Linked DNA regions of Homo sapiens. The protein of the gene in region 4 interacts with the protein of the main gene of each other region in a pairwise test. Each region holds a gene or a part of one and is shown on either strand. Other genes may lie near its edges.

Evidence for each region.
Region 1: the proteins of CEP70 (region 4) and BRD1 interact in binary tests that used the Homo sapiens proteins (3 or more experiments, as listed by UniProt).
Region 2: the proteins of CEP70 (region 4) and ARHGEF3 interact in binary tests that used the Homo sapiens proteins (3 or more experiments, as listed by UniProt).
Region 3: the proteins of CEP70 (region 4) and EMP1 interact in binary tests that used the Homo sapiens proteins (3 or more experiments, as listed by UniProt).

What each region holds. Positions count from the first base shown.
Region 1 is NC_000022.11:49,772,149-49,776,881, forward strand, and holds the end of BRD1 (bromodomain-containing protein 1), read right to left. Parts: intron 4,012-4,733; coding exon 3,902-4,011; intron 3,598-3,901; coding exon 3,443-3,597; intron 2,269-3,442; coding exon 2,085-2,268; 3' UTR 1,135-2,084; downstream 1-1,134. UniProt on the Homo sapiens protein: Scaffold subunit of various histone acetyltransferase (HAT) complexes, such as the MOZ/MORF and HBO1 complexes, that acts as a regulator of hematopoiesis.
Region 2 is NC_000003.12:56,742,316-56,747,457, reverse strand, and holds part of ARHGEF3 (rho guanine nucleotide exchange factor 3), read left to right. Parts: intron 1-1,995; coding exon 1,996-2,253; intron 2,254-5,142. UniProt on the Homo sapiens protein: Acts as a guanine nucleotide exchange factor (GEF) for RhoA and RhoB GTPases.
Region 3 is NC_000012.12:13,216,076-13,221,075, forward strand, and holds the end of EMP1 (epithelial membrane protein 1), read left to right. Parts: 3' UTR 1-3,866; downstream 3,867-5,000.
Region 4 is NC_000003.12:138,583,731-138,588,872, reverse strand, and holds part of CEP70 (centrosomal protein of 70 kDa), read left to right. Parts: intron 1-5,142.

The sequences.
Region 1 (4,733 bases), on a different chromosome or scaffold from region 4:
AGGGGCGATGCTTCAGGACAGGCGCGCTCAGCAGGTGTCCATCTTATTTCACACCTTTGTGTTTATATCATCTTATTTTGCATTTTATGTCTAATTAACAATATGCAGCTGGCCAGGCGCAGTGGCTCAAGCCTCTAATCCCAGCACTTTGGGAGGCCGAGGCAGGTGTATCACTTGAGGGCAGGAGTTCGGGACCGGCCTGGGCAACATAGCAAAACCCCATTGCTAATAAAAATACAAAAATTAGCCAGCCATGGTGGCGGGCACCTGCAGTCCCAGCTACTCCGGAAGCTGAAGCAGGAGAATCACTTGAACCCAGGAGGCGGAGGTGGCAGTGAGCTATCAAGCCATTACACTCCAGCCTGGGCAACAGAGAAAGACTGTCTCAAAAAAAAATTAATACGCAGCAGAATATTATGTGGTCAGCCCAAGCAGTCCCCCCCACTCAGCCCTCTGTCCCTACAGCTCCAGGCACTCCCCCAGCCCCTCCCCTGGACAAGAGGTAATGCCCAGAGGGTGAAAATCCACCAAGGTTAAGCCAGAAACAAAAAGCTCAAAGCTTCGGCATCTCCCTCCGCTCAGACCCTTAGAGCAGATTCCTCTCATCGACAGCACGATCAGGCTGTGGGTGGCAGAGAAGGGGTGCAAACTGCACCCGCCATTAGCTGGGCTTCTCGGTGGTAGCCCTGAGTGCTCCACGGCCTGTCCCCACCTGGCTCCTGCACCCGCTTCCTTTCTGCGTGGGCTTCCTTTCTGCGTGGGCGGTGAGTGATCCTGGGGGCCACCAGCTGCTCGTGGTGGGGAGGGGCCTGCCGGGCGGGGCTGGCTGTGGGAAGGAGAGCCACGACAGATAGGAAGCACCTGCCAGATGCAGGACAGCAACTATCTAAGGAAGACTTGATTTCCAAGTTTCTATGGAGATGTTACAAACGGTGTAGGCTTAAAAAAAGCATTTAAAACTTTTATGTAACTGAAGTTTTAAAATAAAAATATGATCAGGTGAAATAACAAATAATGCCATCCCATGACAGTTTTCAAGATAAAGGCGTGTCCCCGCCCCCTGCAGCCAGCACCCCACCCGTCCTTGGGGCTCACCTAGCCGTCTAGGGCTGTAGGAATAAAATGGCCACACCGTCCAAATCTTGACTTTATTTTTAATATAAAAAATGCAAATTTGGAAACCCACCCTACTTTCCCCAACATAATGCTTTACCTCTTAAAAATAAAAATAAAGTACTAATTCTATATACATCACAGGTACCATACAAAAATGTATCCAAAGTTTCTATTGCTACCAAAGTGTTCTAAATTAAAACAAGTTACAGAAAGCCCCTCATTGTAAACAAAAGATTACAAGTTATAAAATCAAAGTACACACAGGCCAGAGTCATTTATACAATGCAATGCATTCTGCTCCCAAGCCAAGTTGAATTTTTATGTGCCTGTATAAAAATGCATATCAATATACCTTTGCAAATGTATTTTTCATTATAAAGCAAATGAATACACTTTCTACAATAAATAATCCGCTGGGAGGCACACCTGCGGGGTTTGAGGTGGGCGGGACGACGGGAGCGGGGACACACCCACCGGCGGTCACGGGCAGCGGAGTGTTTTTGGTGATCTGCAAGTGATGTACACAGCATAACTTTATTCTCCCCTCTTTCCACAAAGTACCATTCAAAATAATGTCATTTTCTTTCTTAAAATACACATTTGTCATTGTAAATTTACATCCCGTCTTATTAAATAAGTGGTACTCTGTGTAAAGAGCATGATTTACAAAATTATTAAACATTCAAAAGTCTTTAAGAAAAAGCTACATATCAAAGAAAGTGACGCCAGCAGCACGGCCTGGGGACGTGCGACAGACGCACTGGGCTGCCCGGACGTGCCCACCCCACTCACAGCGCCCAGACGGAGATGGGTTCCTAGAAAACTTGGAAATAAAACCTCCCCCCTCCCCGGGGAAAAAGAATTAAAGAGCTATAACTAAAAATCAGAATAAGTTAAGTTTTGAACAATATACAAACATGTACAGCTTATCAACACTATGGACAAGACCCGCGCTGGCGGCCGGGCCGTCAGTCAATGTCACTGAGGTCGCTGGTCGGCTCCCCGTGGACGCGGCTCAGGTGGTTCATGGCGCGGTCAAAAGCGATCCGCACGGCCTTCCGGATGCTGGAATTCCTCCCTTCCATCATCTTTAACTTGTCTATAGTTTCGTCAATACCAAGGGGAACCATTTTGGACTTAGGAAGCCACTGCCTTTTTAAAAGGAAAAACAAGCGGAAAATCATTGCTTGCACATGGTATTTCAGCAGGCTCCATGTAATCATCTAACAAATTCACTGCCCTCCGATAGAAAGGGGCCCTGCTCAGCACCACCAAGACAGCTGGGCCCCGTGCAGGGACAGGCCCGAGGCCAGGAGTGCACCCCTCCCTTCCCCTCCCCGACTTGGGGATACGGGGAGCTAAGTAAGGCATAAAAACCATCACCTCCTCCTCCACCTCCAAAACGTTTCCCAGTGCCTGCTTAGTGACAAGACATGCACACACCAAGCCCAGAGTCAGGGTGGGCCCTGGAGCAGAGGCCGGTGGTTGGGGAGACCCCATCAAAGGGGCCCTCGGATGGACAAGGTGTGGGCCTCGCTCAAGGCCTGACAAGAAGCAGTGGCCACGTGGCCAAAGAGGCAGAGGTCGAGGCAAGGAAGAGAAAGACGGTAGGGATGCCTGTGCTGCCAGTCCTGCTCCAGGCACACCATAGGCAGGTGGCCCCGAGCCCCTGCGCCAGGTCCCAAGTGCAGCCAGCTCCACGGGGAACCAGGAAGCACCTGCCCGGGCCACGTGCGCAGGGCACAGCCGGGGCCACAGCTCCTCCCAGAGGCATGTGCTGCCAGCGTGTCCTGCACAGAGGGATCTTGGGGTCTAAACCCTGGCACATGAGGGTCCCAGACGCTCTGGGGAAAAGCAGCTCAGGGCACAGGGGGAGCCTCCTGTGATGGGGTGGATGTCTGAGCAGAGCTGGATGATGCTGGGACAGAAGGCTCTAAGAACAGGGCCAGAGGCCAGGCCCGGGCAGGGGCCATGTCCTGCAGTACAGGGGTCCGGGAGCACAGCAGAGGGACCCCCAACACTGGAGCGGACACATGGGTAAGGAGTAGGGAAGAGACAGTCCAGACCAATGGGGCTCAGGCGAGAGGGAGAGGAAGCCATCGGGCAGAGACAGACCCGGTGCTCAGTGCCCGTCCCACAGTCCCGGCGAGGGGGCTGGGCAGTGCCCTTCTCCACCAGGCAAACAGCGGAGCACTCACCTCCGACTTTAGCTGTGCCAGGGCCCAGCAGACAAAGACGCTGCTCACCACAGGGACACTCAGGTCACCGAGCCCACGGCCCCCAACCACCCCAGCCGGTCCCCGGAGTCTAAGGCCTCTCAACTCACCAACTTCTCTTATTATCAAAAAAGAGAACGAGGAACAGCTTCTCATCAGACTTGGTCTGCATGTGCTCCCCAATCTTCAGCACGTCCAGGGGTGGGGCCGGGATGGTGACGCCGTTGTGGTGGCCAGGCACACGGGGCATCTTGGGGTCGATGATCTGCACGAGAAGGACCCGCTGAGGTCATTGTGAGGCTCACACCCATAAACAACCCCACCTGTCACTGGCACCCCCCCCCGCCTCCCCACCCCAGCTGTGTGAGCCTCCTCAGACCACCCCCACGCCCCCCTCGCCGAACCACCCCTGCCCCTTCCAGCTGTGTGAACCTCCTCTGACCAACCCCGCCCCCCCGCCAGCTGTGGAACCTCCTTGGACCACCGCCGTGAGCCTCCTCGGACCACCCCCGCCCCGCAGCTGTGTGAGCCTCCTCTGGACCCGCAGGCGCCACGAGAGCCGTACTCACCAGTGCCGGGTAGGAGGGGTAGCCGCTGCACTTGGCCCACACCACCTTCAGAGGCTCCAGCACCGAGGCGGCGGCATCAGTGGAGATCCACATGCTGCTCTGGCCGACTTCTGCGGAGAGGGGCGTCAGCAGGACACAGGCGTCAGCAGGACACGGGGCACGCCCCGCCCCCCCACAAAAGGTGCAGCAACAGGGTGGGTCCCCCGAGCACAGCCCAGCTCCCAGGCCTTTCTCAGCCACCCCGGCAGCACCACTGCCTCCCCTGTGGGGTCCAGGCCCTTGCATCCCCACTGTCCCTGCAGCCCACCTGGGGCCACCAGCCTCCCACGGACCCAGGGAAGCTCCTGCCCTCCAGGCTACAAGGCTCCAACTCCAGGTGCCCAGCACAGTCCCTTCTGAGCCCTCCTTGCCGCAAGGACGGGGCTCCCAGCATGCTCCTGCCTCATTTACACAACTGACACCCCAAATGGGAAACCAAAGTCCTGGCTCCCCCTCCGCCAGACCAGCTCCCTGCTGTCCCTCCCACCTGGGGGATCTCCGTCCTGATGCCCCCTCACAGCATGGCTGCCTTCCACAGTGAGGGCTGTGCGACCCCAAACCCTGGGGCCTCCCCCTCCCCCAGGGGCCTGAAGTTGAGGGCACCCACCCTGCAGTCAGTCCCCTGTGCAGCTGCAAATGACCACTGAACCTAAACAACCCCAGACAGCCTTGACAGTGCCTGGCAACCAGCAGCCACACAGAGCTGGACGTTCCACAGGGAAACGAAGGCAGGATGGAGGAGGCGCCACCTCCGCAGGCACCCCGGCAGGGCCACAGCCCAGAGCCCCTCGGT
Region 2 (5,142 bases), about 82 Mb from region 4:
ATCACTTGGGGCCTCTCCTAGCCGGTGACTGAACCAGATAGCCTTTCAGGTCATGCCCAGGAAATGAGCACCCTGTCAGGTGAGAGCACAGGACCAGAGCCCCATTTGGTTGCCATGGTAGCAGGGCAGCAGGATCACAGGGAGCAGTGGCCCATTGGACAGTGAGCAGCAGTGTGGTCGAGGTTCCTCACTAGTTTACATCCAATGGTTACTGCTGATTTGTTTCTTCCTAATGAAAACATTGGGCATTTCCAGATCTTTTTAAAAGGTGAGGAAGTGGAAATTAAATGAAGAGGGCCTGAGGCCCTTTTTAATTAACTCTGAAAGTCTAAATTACAAGCCACAGTACCACGTTTGGGTTCTCTCTCTCTCTCTCTCTCTCTCTCTCTCTCTGTGTGTGTGTGCGCGCATGTATAAGTACCAATTATCATTACTTTCAAATAATAATAGCTAGTACTTACACAAATATAAGGTTGAGGGAAAAAATGTCTGCAACTCTTTAACACAAGTAGAGATTTTTAATAACATGTAAGGAAGGTAGACATTTCAAAGGAATGTTAAGCTCAATAGTAAGCTTGTAAAATATTACTTTCCTGGTATCCTTTTTATGGTTTCAGTCACTGAGGAAATAATTTCAATAAGAGGTGTAAAAGCTGCAGCAGAGTATTTAAAGTTTCAGATGCTGCCATACTTTATTTATTTTTATGTATTTATTTATTTTTTTTTTTGAGACAGAGTCTCACTCTGTTGCCAAGGCTGGAGAGCAGTGGCATGATCTCGGCTCACTGCAACCTCTGCCTCCCGGGTTCAAGAGAGTCTCCTGCCTCAGCCTCCTGAGTAGCTGGGATTACAGGTGTGTGCCACCATGCCTGGCTAATTTTTGTATTTTTAGTAGAGATGGGGTTTCACCATGCTGGCCAGGCTGGTCTTAAACTCCTGACCTCGTGATCCGCCTGCCCCGGCTTCCCAATGTGCTGGGATTACAGGCACGAGCCACTGCGCCTGGCCGCCATACTTTATTTTTAAGCAAGGTTCACAAACCATCAAATATTACCTAATCTTGTAATCCATTAAACATGCATTTATTTGTTCATTCAGAACACAGAGTGTCTGCCATATAGTAGGCCCAATGCAAAGTAGTGAGGATACAGAAATGAAAGACACTCCTTTGCCAGTGTCTTGCACTGAATCCCTCTGAAGAGCAGGTGTTACAAGGGACTAGGGCTTCCTAGTACAAGAGAAAGAAACAAAAGCAGTTAGGCCATTGGCTGCATTTGATTGCTTCTGGTAACTTTCTGGAGGCTGATAGCTCTTAGATTAGAACACCAAGGCAGAAAAAGTGGATGAGAAGCCTTTTCCGTTGAATCTCTGACATGGTATTTGCACAGTGTGACTGATGGGATGTGTCAGAGAAATTAGCATTTTGCTAGAATGAAGGCAGTGAAGGTTAAATGTTCCAAAGTCTTTAAGCTTAAATTGTTCGTTACATAGTATTGTACAGGCTCACGCCTGTAATCTCAGCACTTTGGGAGGCCGAGGCGGGCGGATCACGAGGTCAGGAGATGGAGACTATGCTGGCTAACACGTTGAAACCCCATCTCTACTAAAAATACAAAAAATTATCCGGGCATGGTGGCGGGCGCCTGTAGTCCCAGCTACTCAGGAGGCTGAGGCAGGAGAATGGCGTGAACCCGGGAGGTGGAGCTTGCAGTGAGCCGAGATAGTGCCATTGCACACCAGCCTGGGTGACAGAGCGAGACTCCGTCTCAAAAAAAAAAAAATTGCTTTGTGAAAGCAAGCCAGAGCCTAAGAAAATTGTCCACTGCCTGCCATGTTGAAGATTCCACTAGTTTCCTCCAGCCATGCAGATAAAGGAATGTCAGCCAGACCCAGAGACCAGTTAGGTGTTTGTTCAGTCCCAATAAATGATGCCACCGTAGCCTCAGAGCTCAATTATTTTGACATTCCAACCTTCTCTTTCTGTTTCCTTCTTAGCTCCCTTGCCTCAGCTCCTATGATAGCTACTGCAGCAATCAAGTAGCCGCCAAAGCTCTGCTGGACCACAAAAAGCAAGATCACCGAGTCCAGGATTTCCTACAGCGATGTTTAGAATCCCCCTTTAGCCGCAAACTAGATCTCTGGAATTTCCTCGATATTCCAAGAAGCCGCCTGGTAAAATACCCTCTGCTTCTCCGAGAAATCTTGAGGCACACACCAAATGATAATCCAGATCAGCAGCACTTGGAAGAAGCTGTAAGTTTGTCTGTTTCCTTCTCTCTCTTCTTGTTATTTCCACCATAATGGCTGGTGGATTGGGTCAGTGGGTGAATGGAAGAGTCCCTGGGTACTTAGTACTCAGGAATCTTGGGTTCCAGGCCTGGCACTGCCATCAACCATGTTTTGATTTTGCAAGTCACTTCTCATCTTTCTGCCTCAGTTTCCTAAACTGTAAAATGCAGTGCTTACATGAAACACGCTGTAAGGTCCCTTAGTAAAATTCTTAATTTTATACAGGTGACTCTAATCTGGTGTTACAGTTGCTGTCTGTGAGGGACAAGATCTTTGTGTATATTTTAAATTTTGTTTAGTTAGAAAATAGTAAGTTGCCTTTTAGCCTAGCCCCAAAACTCATTTGTGAAGTGGACATCCATTTAAAATCTAGCTCCATTTAGCCCCCGATTACAGTGGCTTGCCTTGTCAAACCTCCTGCTCACTAGTGGGATCCTCACTCAGCAAATGTTTGTTGAGTGTGGGCCAGGCACGATGGCTCATGCCTGTAATCCCAGCACTTTGGGAGGCCGAGGTGGGCAGATCACTTGAAGCCAGGAGTTCAAGACCAGCCTGGCCAAAAAAGCAAAACCCTGTCTCTACTAAAAATACAAAAAAAAAAAATTAGCTGGGCGAGGTGGCATATGCCTATAATCCCAGCTACTCAGGAAGGTGAGGCACAAGAATCGCTTGAGCCTGGGAGGTGGAGGTTGCAGTGAGCTGAGATCACGCCACTGCAACTCCAGCCTGGGCAACAGAGTGAGACTCTTGTCTCAAAAAAAAAAAAAAAAAGGTTTATTGAGTGTGGGCTGGGTAATCTGGGAAATATATATTTTTCCCTAGCAGCAATAGAAGACGAGGAAAAATGGGGTGCACATCATGAGAATATTGTAAACTGTGAGCATTCCACCCAGAGAGCACCGTTCTGGTTGAGGTACTCTGCATGGTAGAGATGGCAGATGGCAGGCCACGGGGAGCGGGTGGCCTGAGCAAAGGTATAAGGAAATGACAGGACAGGTCGTGCCTGGGGAATATCATGGATCAGTTGGCCTGGGGTTAGGGGTCCTCTGAGAAAGCAGCAGGAGAGAAGACAGAGGATGTGGGTTCAGATCTGGTTATAGAGGTTTTTAAATATCAATTTAAGAGATTTTTTCCTTTGTCATGCAATTAATTGAAGTTTTTTTTTTGTTTGTTGGTTGGTTTCTAAGTAGCTGGGATTCAGGATTCAAATCCCAGCTCCATCATTTACAAGCTCTGTAACCTTGGACACATACTCTTGGTAGAACAAGGGACTGAGGAGGAAGAGACTGGTGATAGGGATGCAAGTTGGGAGGATGCTGTCCAGGTGTGAAAACCTGATCAAGGAGGTGGCAGTGGGGATAGAGGCTAGCAGACCATTCAAAGGGCTCATTTTCTGATTTAATCTGGGACAATAATAGAAGGAGGATATGCATAGGTAATTTGAAAATCAGAAACCTTGAACCTGCTGAGCAAACTGCCTATTTCCTCCCAGATAGGGGTTTAATAATAAGTAGTAGTAACAACAATCATGGTAATAATTGCTGGCATTGAGTATCTAGTAAATCAACTTTATGTAATTTGCCTCATAGGTTATGTATCTCATTTAACCGTCACAACAGCCTAGGAGATAGCTGTTCTTATTAGGACCATTTTCCAGATGAGGCTTAGAGGGGTTAAATAGCTTGCCCAGGTCCACAGCCAGCAAGTGATGCAGTTGATGTTCAAACCCTGTCAGTGTAGACTCCAAATCCTGTGCCCTTCAACTTCTTTATGATTCTATACCTTGATGCAGAAAGCCTGCCCACTACTTTGAGTTTCTGTTGCCTTTGTAATTGTGGAGAGCTGTCTGGTCACCAGCCTCACTGGTGCAGAACTGGGCTGGGTGCCTCCAAGTAGGATAGAAAAGAAGAATAAAGGACCCTCTTCTGATTCATGAGGTATTCAATGTATCTGGCAGGCCCAACACAGAGATCAGGCCCCCAGTCCAGCACAGATGGGGGACGCAGTCGCTGGGGTTGAGGCCCATCTCACTTCATCATGTCTGTTTTTATTACTGGGAAGAGTGCGATAGAGTTGCCTCCTTTCCATATTTCATCCCAGCAAGTGTGTGGTCTGCAGGAATAAAAACAACAGGGAGCATGAGCTACTCAAAGTCATGACTTTTTTGAAGCATGGGAGCCTGTTCTGAGTTACTGTAAAGATTTCTTTTTAATATGGAGCATGAAAGAATACTGTTCTGTTTTTTTAAAAAATACCCAGTGAGCTAAAGTTTGAATTTAAAAACAGATAAGAATATGATTGTGTGTAATTCAAAATGATGTGCCAGTAACCAGTTTTCCTAGTGCATAAAGTATGAAGCTGTTTTCAAAAGTTCACTCTGCATCTAGTTATTCAGGCAGATCTGTGCATGAAACATGGTATACCTGCATTTGAAAATGTCTGCAAAGCAAGTCTTCCAAATGCCTACTTACACAGTATACGCACAGGATTTTTTTTTTCCCTTTACAGAATCCTCATAGCATTCATTACCCCACATGAACAGAATTATTTAGCCCTGTACTCTTGGGTGCATTATGAATGTTTGATAAACATAAAACATAAAACAAGCACCAATATAGCTTGACAAATATCCCATGAATAAATTTCCCATCAATGAAAAGGGAAAAATCAGAGAGCGCTAAGTAAATTGCTTCCGTTCCAAGAGAGTTGATTGCATTCATACCTATGATTAGATCTAAAAAGAGGTCTTGCCTTTAATGCAGTGCCTAAATTACCACATCTTTATTAGAATTTCATAATAATGCTTTGAGGGTTGATAAAAATTTTTCTCAAAAGAGAACTTCTTAAAATAGG
Region 3 (5,000 bases), on a different chromosome or scaffold from region 4:
TAGAAGTAGTATGTTATTCCTGGTTAAGCAGGCATTGCTTTGCCCTGGAGCAGCTATTTTAAGCCATCTCAGATTCTGTCTAAAGGGGTTTTTTGGGAAGACGTTTTCTTTATCGCCCTGAGAAGATCTACCCCAGGGAGAATCTGAGACATCTTGCCTACTTTTCTTTATTAGCTTTCTCCTCATCCATTTCTTTTATACCTTTCCTTTTTGGGGAGTTGTTATGCCATGATTTTTGGTATTTATGTAAAAGGATTATTACTAATTCTATTTCTCTATGTTTATTCTAGTTAAGGAAATGTTGAGGGCAAGCCACCAAATTACCTAGGCTGAGGTTAGAGAGATTGGCCAGCAAAAACTGTGGGAAGATGAACTTTGTCATTATGATTTCATTATCACATGATTATAGAAGGCTGTCTTAGTGCAAAAAACATACTTACATTTCAGACATATCCAAAGGGAATACTCACATTTTGTTAAGAAGTTGAACTATGACTGGAGTAAACCATGTATTCCCTTATCTTTTACTTTTTTTCTGTGACATTTATGTCTCATGTAATTTGCATTACTCTGGTGGATTGTTCTAGTACTGTATTGGGCTTCTTCGTTAATAGATTATTTCATATACTATAATTGTAAATATTTTGATACAAATGTTTATAACTCTAGGGATATAAAAACAGATTCTGATTCCCTTCATTGTGTGAATGTTTTTTTCTAAAAAAAATGTGGAGAAATATGGATAATTATGACATTTATCCCTCATTAAGCTGCCTATCAGTTTGATTTGGACAACTTGACATTTATTTGAGACATTAAGCTACTTTCTGGTAATATATTAGGCATTTCTGCAATAGCTCTTTCAGGTAACTGAATATTATTAAGCATAGTTTTATCTTGCTTTGATTAAACCTCTTAGGCAAAAAATGGAACTTCATAAGCTAATACATTAGAAAGGGGTTATGATTATAAATCAGAAATGCTTGTGACATTAAGAAATGAGGCACTTGTGAAATTTCTTTGAAATAGCCAGCTCCTCTAATGTGTCTTCAAAATATAAAGTGATTCACAAAGGCATGCATCACACCTATTTGTAGCAGCCCATTCATTACATAAACCAGGGCATACCTGTGTGGGCTCTGTGAGTGAAGGGAGGCTTCACTACTTTCTGTGAGCAGTAAGGACTGGTATCTTTCTGTGAGCAATAAGGACTGGATAAAGACTGCATATCCTTGTGTCGTGTCAGCACCAATACAATAAGGAGGGTTTTAATGTGAAGCAGGCAATCTTCCAGCCCCTTCTGGTCTTGGATGAAATAGTTGCACAGAGTATTGCACCAAAAATACACAATGGAGGCTGAAAAGTTCAACATATTTTAAGTCAATTAATCAAATTGCATTGATTCTTGATGCTTTCTTAGAGGCCTACATGATTTCTTAGATTGCTCTGATAAACTATCATAAGGGGTCCACCTCCCCTCATTTAGCTCCCCCAGGGATTTCTTTTCCCCCATGTCATACACCCAGTCCTAAATCAACCCCCAAGGCTATCCTTCCATCCCTTCTGCAGAGGGAACTTTTGTCAGACTCTGCAACAAACTCCTAGCTCTATCCAGAGTGTCCTCTGCTGCTAAGATTGGTATCTTTCTCCTCAAAAGCCTGGATGGTGAATGGGGGTGCATTAGTCAGAATTCTCCAGAGAAACAGAAAAAATAAGATTCGCGTGTGTGTGCAAACATATATATAAATAAATAAAAATATATTTATTTTAAGGAATTGACTCACATGATTTTGAAGGCAGGCAAGCCCAAAGTCTGCAAGGGGTGGGCCAGCAGAGAGCTGGTGCTACAGTGCGGGTCTGAAAGTTGCCAGAGTCCCTTTTATAGAGAAGCTTAAAAAATATTTGTTGAATTAAATGTCTTAGGTAGAGACAAATTGAATTAAAGTGGTTAAGTAAATACTCTTAGGTGAAATTTGTGCAAATTATGAGTATAAAGAGGGTGAGCTACAGAACTCTCCATGACCACTCAAGAATGGGACCCAAAGGCAAATGATAACTTATTCATTCATCAAGGGATAAACTTGAGTTATCAAATGGTTAATAGATAAAGATCCCACTCTGCCTTGGATTTAGCCATCGCAGTCCCTGTGTAAAACCCCACCGGCTTTCAGGCATGGAAAAAAATTTCACAAAGGCCTTGAAAGAAGGCATATGAAGACCAAAAGGATATTGAGCAGGGTTCCATACTTGAATAAAGGAAGAAACTCCCTTCAATGTTTACTAAGAAATAGTTAGAATATAGCATATCCTGTATAGATGAAATGTCCTAGCGAAAATGTTTAAATGTATTTAAAGAAGAGCTAGATTTTGTGGGGGGAGAGAAGGGAATAGGATAGGCTGGTGGGAGGAAGAATGAAAAGAAGAAAACTTGTTGGAAATTTTGGAGTAGATTGTGAGGAGGGGTGACTCACTTTAAAGATGTATCATTTGGAGGTAGACACGATTTTCAGAGCACAAAACAGATAAGGAAAGATGTATGCTGATTGTGTGGAGCCCAAGGGAAGGCGGGGTTTTGGAGTCTTACGTGGCTTTGTTTCTGAAAGGGAGACATGTGAAGCCTACTCCTGAGGCGGGAGGCTGGGGACATGACCATCAAGACCTATAATTGATAAACAACTAGGGGCTGGGTGCTGCACCTACATGCTGGGGAAATAGAAAATGAAGCAGACATGTGTCCCATCTTCTTCCAGCTTTCAGTCTAGCTTGGAAATAAATCTCATACCTAGAGAAAATGGAGGATCTGTGGGATGTAGATGAGGTGGGAGCATGAATGCCTAGGGAGGGAAGAAGAAAGATTTTCAGTTCTTCAGCTTTTCCTCATGACCCTATCTCATGCCATGAGCAATTGTCTGGCATCTCCTGTGGGTTGGACCACTGCTGCATTTCTTACTTGCCAACATCACTTTGTCCCAAATGCCATTCCTTTGTTCCAGGGCCTCCTTGTCTTCCATCTGGGGAACTGGAGGTGAGAAGCATTATAATAGCCTCTCTGCCTTTATCTACAATCTCTCCAACCTGTGCTTTATGCTGATGTCAGGATGGGCGTTGATGGATGCTTCTATCACTGTCGGGGCAGGGAGGGCCAGAACACTAGCATAAGATGTCAATATGTCTATCCATATGTCAGGTCCATACTCAACTCAAGCTTCTGGTTAACTGCTGATCTATTGGCAACTCCAGTTCCCAATAAGTTCCTCATCTCCTTCTGAGACCACCTCAGTGTGGACTTAATCGTCCACATCACTGTCAGCATTTTGGTTAAAACCATTCAACAAGTCTCCAGGAAGCTCCAAACTTTCCTTCATCTTCCTGTCTTCTTCTGAGCCCTCCAAACTCTTCCAACCTCTACCCGTTACCCAGTTCCAAAGGTGCTTCCACACTTTCAAGTATCTTTATAGCAATGCCCCACTCCTGGTACCAAATTCCTGTATTAGTCTGTTTTCACACTGCTATGAAGACATACTTGAGACTCGGTAATTTATATAGAAAAGAGGTTTAATTGACAAAAAAGCTAACAAAGTGAGCCCTGATTCAAAAATGACTGTCTACACTTGGCACATGAGGGACTTTATGATATTAAGAGATTAATTAAACAACAGTGGATGGGGAGGAAGAACAGACTTTTGAGCTCTTCCCAATATAGGAATGTGTTAGTTCTAAAAATTTTCTTAAGTTGTTTGCTTGGAACTCAGAGTATATTTTTCCATACGAAAAATTCAGAACTATTTTATTTATGATATGGGCTAAAAAGACTTCTGTAATCTAGCTTGGAAACTTAATAATCATTAAACTTATTTTCAATGAGATACGACTGTTTAAATTCTGAAACCTGGAACCCTCTGTTGCCCTGCAAATGCTTTAGGAAAAGAAGAGTGTGTCTGATGGAGGATAAGATGGAAAGTGAATATGGATCCATATTCAGAAGACACGGTTGCATTACAGCAAAGGAACAGCTTTTTGCTGGCCATGCTAAGCATTTGACATTGATGTGGGAGAACATGGCATTCAGTATGACTCTGTCTGGATATATATAGTTTTGTAAATTGGGTGTTCTTAAGTTGAGACTGCATGTTTCATTCCAAAATCAATCTTAGTTTTCCCACTTGCATTAGCATATTGTATTAGTCCGTCTTCACACTGCTATAAAGACATACCCGAGACTGGGTAATTTATAAAGAAAAGAGGTTTAATTGACTCACAGTTCTGCATGGCTGGGGAGGCTTCAGGAAACTTATAATCATGGCAAAAGGGGAAGAGGTACGTCTTACATGGTGACAGGGGAGAGAGAGCATGCAAGAGAAGGGAAAACTGCATTATAAAACCATAAATTTTATAGAACCCACTATCCCAAGAACAGCATGAGGGAACCACCCTCATGATCCAATCACCTTCCACGGGGTCCCTCCCTCAACACATGGGGATTTGGGGGATTACAATTCAAGATGAGATTTGGGTGGGGGAACAGCCAAACCATATCATGTATCAATGCTTAAATTCAGTTTATCTGGGAATTTTGAATGATTCCAACTCCTTAGTATAGACATTTACAGGCTTTTGGGCATTATGAAATCGTACTATTTTTAATTTGATTTCACCACTTCTCCTCTGTCTTATAAAAAGCTGACATTGAGCACATGTGTCCTTATAATTTTTAAGGTGAATCAAAAGTAAACCTGTTTTGAGTATTTGGATATAGTTTTGCAGTAGCTCTTGAGGTTACTAGGGTTGCAAAATCAAGTTTGAGAATTATAGTGCTAGATTTATGGGTGAAATGGATTACACTAATTAGTCTGACATTTAGTCACCTTGTTTTAAAAAAGCAAGGCAATATTCTGGCAGTGATATTGAACTCCAGATTTCTTTCCATATACTCACTTATGAAATTTACTTCAACATGGCATACCAGAACTGACTACTAATTTCTTTCCCCAGAATAATTT
Region 4 (5,142 bases):
ATACCACAGTTTGTGTGTCTGTTCACCTGCTGCTGGACATTTGAGTTGTTTCCAGTTTCTGGCTATTATAGATAAAGCTCTTACGAACATTTGTGTACAGTCTTTGTGTGGACATAATGCTTTCATTTCTCTTGGGTAAATTCTAGGAATGGCATGACTGGGTCTTATGGTAAGTGCTTATTAACCTTTTAAGAAATAGCCAAAGTGATTTACAAAGTGGTTGTACTAGTTTAAATTCCCGTCGGCAGTATATGAGAGTTCTAGTTCCCTCACATCCTCGAAAACACTTGGTCTAGTCATTCTTAGCCATTCTAATATGTGTAGTGGTGTCACATCGTGTGTTTTAATTTGCATTTCCCTCCTGACTAACAATGTTTAGCATCTTTTTGTGTGCCTAGCTGCCATCTGTATGTCTTCTTTTGTGAAATGTCTATTGAAATTTTTTGACCATTTTTAAGTTCAGTTGTTTACTTCTTGTTGATGTTAACTTCCTTACTAAGTTTTGAGAGTTCCCTATATATTCTGGATATGAACCTTTTCTGATTCCTGACTATTTTCTCTGAGTATGTGGTTTCTCTTTTCATTCTCAGAATGTTATATTTTAAAGAGCAGACATTATTTTTATGAAGCCCCATTTGTTCTTGAATTGTATCATGCTTTTGGTGTCATATCATAGACATGTTTGCCTAACTCAAGGCCATACAGTTTTTCTGTGTTTTTCTAGACATGTTGTGATTTTAAGTTTTAGATTTATGTCATTCATTTTAATTTTTTTGTATATGGTGTGAGATATGGCTGAAAGTCCTGTTTCTTTCTCTTTTTTTTGTACATGGGCATCCCATTGTTCTAGCATCATTTATTGAAAAAAAAAAACTATCGTTTTTCCTGCTAAATTACCTTCGTATCTTTGGTGAAAATTAGTTGTCCATATATGTATGAGTCTGTTTCTGGAATCTATTTAGTTTCATTAATCTGTTTGTCTATCTTGATATCAATGCTATATTGTCTTGATTACTATAGCTTTATAAACCTTGAAATGATATAGTATTAGTCCTTCAACTTTGTTCTTCTTTTTCATTCATTCATTTATTAATTTAGAGATAGGGTCTTGCTTTGTCACCCAGCCTAGAGTGCAGTGGCACAATCATAGCTCACTGATTAAACTCCTGGGTTCAAGTTGTCTTCCCACCTCAGCCACCTAAGTAGCGAGGACTACAGGTTCATGCCACAATGCCTGGCTAATCTTTTTTTTGTAGAGATGGGGTCTTGCTATGTTGCCCAGTCTGGTCTTGAATTCCTGGGCCTCAAGCTGTCCTCCTGCCTCAGCCTCCCAGAGTGCTGGGATTACAGGTGTGAGCCACCATGGCCAGCCTGTTCTTTTTCAAAGTTGTTTTGTCTTTTATAGATCTTTTGCAGCTCTGTATGAATTTTAAAATCAGGAAAGTTTCCTGAATTATAGTTTTTTTAATTGGTTCTGTTGTTTTAGTTTTCTTTTTCAATTACCACTATTATGTGTATGTTTGAGCTTCTTTGCCTATCTTTGTCATTTTCATATTTCTTCTTCATTTCTTTTTAATTTTTTAAAATTGTTTTCCTTTTAATCTCTATTTCTCTTAAGGCATTGTCTGTAGTCTTTACTCATTCATTTTCCTTCTTTAATCTTCATTTCAGAAATAATTAGTTTTTAAAAGTTACTAATTTCTAGATTCTATCAGCTCATTTCCAAGTTTTATTTCTAATTATGTTGTTTATGTCTTACAGAGTTTTACATGTATTTTAGTTTGTTTTAATATAGAGGTTATAGTTCCTATCTGTTTTGTGAGCACGTCTTTCTAGTATATTTTTCTTGTCTGTAGAGATTTTTTTTAATATGAACTTTTACAATTTAAAATTTTTTTAATTTCATGGGTGCACAGATGTGTATGTTTATGGGTTACATGGGATATTTTGATACACCATATAATATATAATAATCATATCAGGGTAAATGAGGTAGCCACCATCTTAAGCATTTATCCTTTGTGTTAGAAACAATCCAATTATTCTCTTTTAGTTACTTAAAAGTGTGCAATTATATTATTATTGAATATAGTCAACCCATTGTGCTAGCAAATATTAGATCTTATTCTTTTTTTCTATTTTTTTGTACCCATTGACCATCCCCTCTTCCTTTCAGCCCACCTGTTACTCTTCCCAGCCTTTGGTAACCATCCTTCTACTCTGTGTCTCCATGAGTTCAATTGTTTTGATTTTTGGATCCCACAAATAAATGAGAACATGTGATGTTTGTCTTTCTGTGCCTGGCTTATTTCACTTAAAATAATGACTTCCAGTTCCATCCATGTTGTTGCAAATGACAGGAGCTCATTCTTTTTTTATGGCTGAGTAGTACTCCATTATGTATATGTACCAGATTTTCTTTATCCATTTGTCTGTCAGTGGACACTTGGGTTGCTTCCAAATCTTGGCTTTTGTGAATAATGCTGCAGTAAACATGAGAGTGCAGATATCTCTTTAATATGCTGATTTCCTACCAAAAATATAAAAAATTGGCCAGTGTGGTGGCATGTGCCTATAATCCCAGCTACTCAGGAGGCTGAGGCAGGAGAATCGCTTGAACCTGGGAGGCAGAGGTTGCAGTGAGCCGAGATTGTGCCACTGCACTCCAGCCTGGGCGACAGAGTGAGACTCAAAAAAAAAAAGTTGTTTCAGATCCTTATACATCCTGGCTATTAACCCTCGTCAGATGGGTAGTTTACAAATATTTTCTCCCATTCTGTGGGTTGTCTCTTCACTTTGTTGTTTCCTTTGCCGTGCAGAAGCTTTTTAACTCAATGTGACCCCACCTGTCTATTTTTGCTTTGGTTGCCTGTGCTTGTGGTATATTACTCAAGAAATCTTTGCCCAATCCAATGTCCTGGAGAGTTTCCCCAATTTTTTTGTAGTACTTTCATAGTTTGAGGGCTTAGATTTAAGTCTTGATTCATTTTTATTTGATTTTTGTATATGGTGAGAGATAGGGGTCTAGTTCCATTCTTCTGCATATGGATATCCCAGCACCATTCATTGAAGAGACTTTTCTTTCCCCAATGTATGTTCTTGGCACCTTTGTCAATAATGAGTTCACTGTCAGTATGTGGATTTGTTTCTGGGTTTTCTGTTCTGTTCCATTGGTCTATGTGTCTGTTTTGGTGGCAGTAGTATGCTGTTTTAGTTAATATAGCTCTGCAATATAATTTGAAGTCAGTTAATGTGATTCCTCCAGTTTTATTCTTTTTGCTCAGGATAGCTTTGGCTATTCTGGGTCTTTTGTGCTTTAAATTTTAGGATTATTTTGTCTATTTCTGTGAAGAATGTCATTGGTATTTTGCTAGGCATTTGCATTGAATCTGTAGATTGCTTTGAGTAATATAGATATTTTAACAATATTGATTGTTTCAATCTATGAACATGGAATATCTTTTCATTTTTTTGTGGCCTCTTCAATTTCTGTCATCAGTATTTTATAATTTTCATTGTAGAGATGTTTTACTTCATTGGTTCAGTTAATTCCTAGGTGTTTAATTTTCTTTGTGGCTATTGTAAATGGGATTACTGTTTTGATTTCTTTTTCAGATTGTCCTTGTTGGTTTATAGAAATGCTACTGATTTTTCTAAGCTGATTTTGTGTCTTGCAGCTTTACTGAATTTGTTTACCAGTTCAAATAGCTTTTTGGTGGAGTCTTCAGGTTTTTCCAAATATAAGATCATGTCACCTGCAAACAAGGATAATTTGATTTCAAATTTTGATGGCCTTTTTTTCCTTTCTCATGTCTAACTGCTAGCTAGAGCAATTCCAGTCCTTTTTCATCTCTAGCTAGAGCAATTCTAGTCCTAACTACAGCAATTCCAGTCCTTTTTCATCTCTGATTTTATTTGAATCTTTTTTCCTTTCTTCCTTCATAGTCTGGCTAAAGGTTTGTCAATTTTTTATCCTTGTTCTGTTCTAGATCTTAGAGGAAAGGCTTTCAGTTTTTCCCGATTCAGTGTGATACTGCCTGTGGGTCTGTCATACATGGCTTTTATTATGTGGAGGTATGTTCCTTTTATACCTAGTTTTTTTAGGGTTTTTTTTTTAAATCATGAAGGAATGTTGAATTTTATCAAGTGCTTTTTCAGTATCAGTTGAAACGATCATATGGTTTTTGTCTTTCAGTCTGTTGATAATGATGTATCACATTGATTGATTTGCATATGTTGAATCATCCTTTCATCCCTGGGATAAATCCCACTTGTTGATGATGAATGATCTTTTTAATGTGTTGTTGAATTTGGTTTGCTAGTATTTTGTTGAAGATTTTTGCATCAATATTAATCAGGGATATTGGCCTGTAGGTTTTTCTCTCTCTCTCTCTTTTTTTTTTTTTTTTTTGATATGTCTTTGTCTGGTTTTGGTATCAGGGTAATACTGGCCTCATAGAATGAGTTTGGATGTATTCCCTCCTCTTCCATTCTTCAGAATAGTTTGAGTAGGGTTGGTGTTAATTCTTTAAATGTTTGGTAGAATTCAGCAGTGAAGCCATGGAGTCCGAGGCTTTTCTTTGCTGGAGGACTTTTTATTATAGCTTCAATGTTGTTAGTTGTTATTGGTCTGTTCAGGTTTTGGATTTCTTTATGGTTCAATCTTAGTAGGTTGTTTGTGTCTAGGAATTTATCCATTTCTTCTAGATTTTCTAGTTTATTGGTATATAGTTGCTCCTAGTAGGCTCTAATGATCCTTTGTATTTCTGCAGTATTGGTTGTAATGTCTCCTTTTTCATCTCTGATTTTGAATCTTTTCTCTTTTTTCTTCATTAGTCTGGCTAAGGGTTTATCAGTTTTCTACATCTTTTCAAAAAACCAACTTTTTGTTTTATTGTTCTTATGTCTTATTTGTTTCAATTTCATTATTTCTGCTGTAATCTTTATTATTTCTTCTACTTTCAGTTTGGTTTGCTCTGCTTTTCTAGTTCTAGTTCATTAGGTTGTTTATTTGAAGTTTTTCTTTTCATGTAGGCACTTAAAGCTATAAATTTCTCTCAGTACTGTTTTCACTGTATCCCATAGGTTTTGGTATGTTCTGTTTCCATTATCATTTGTTTCAAGACATTTTTCAGTTTCCTT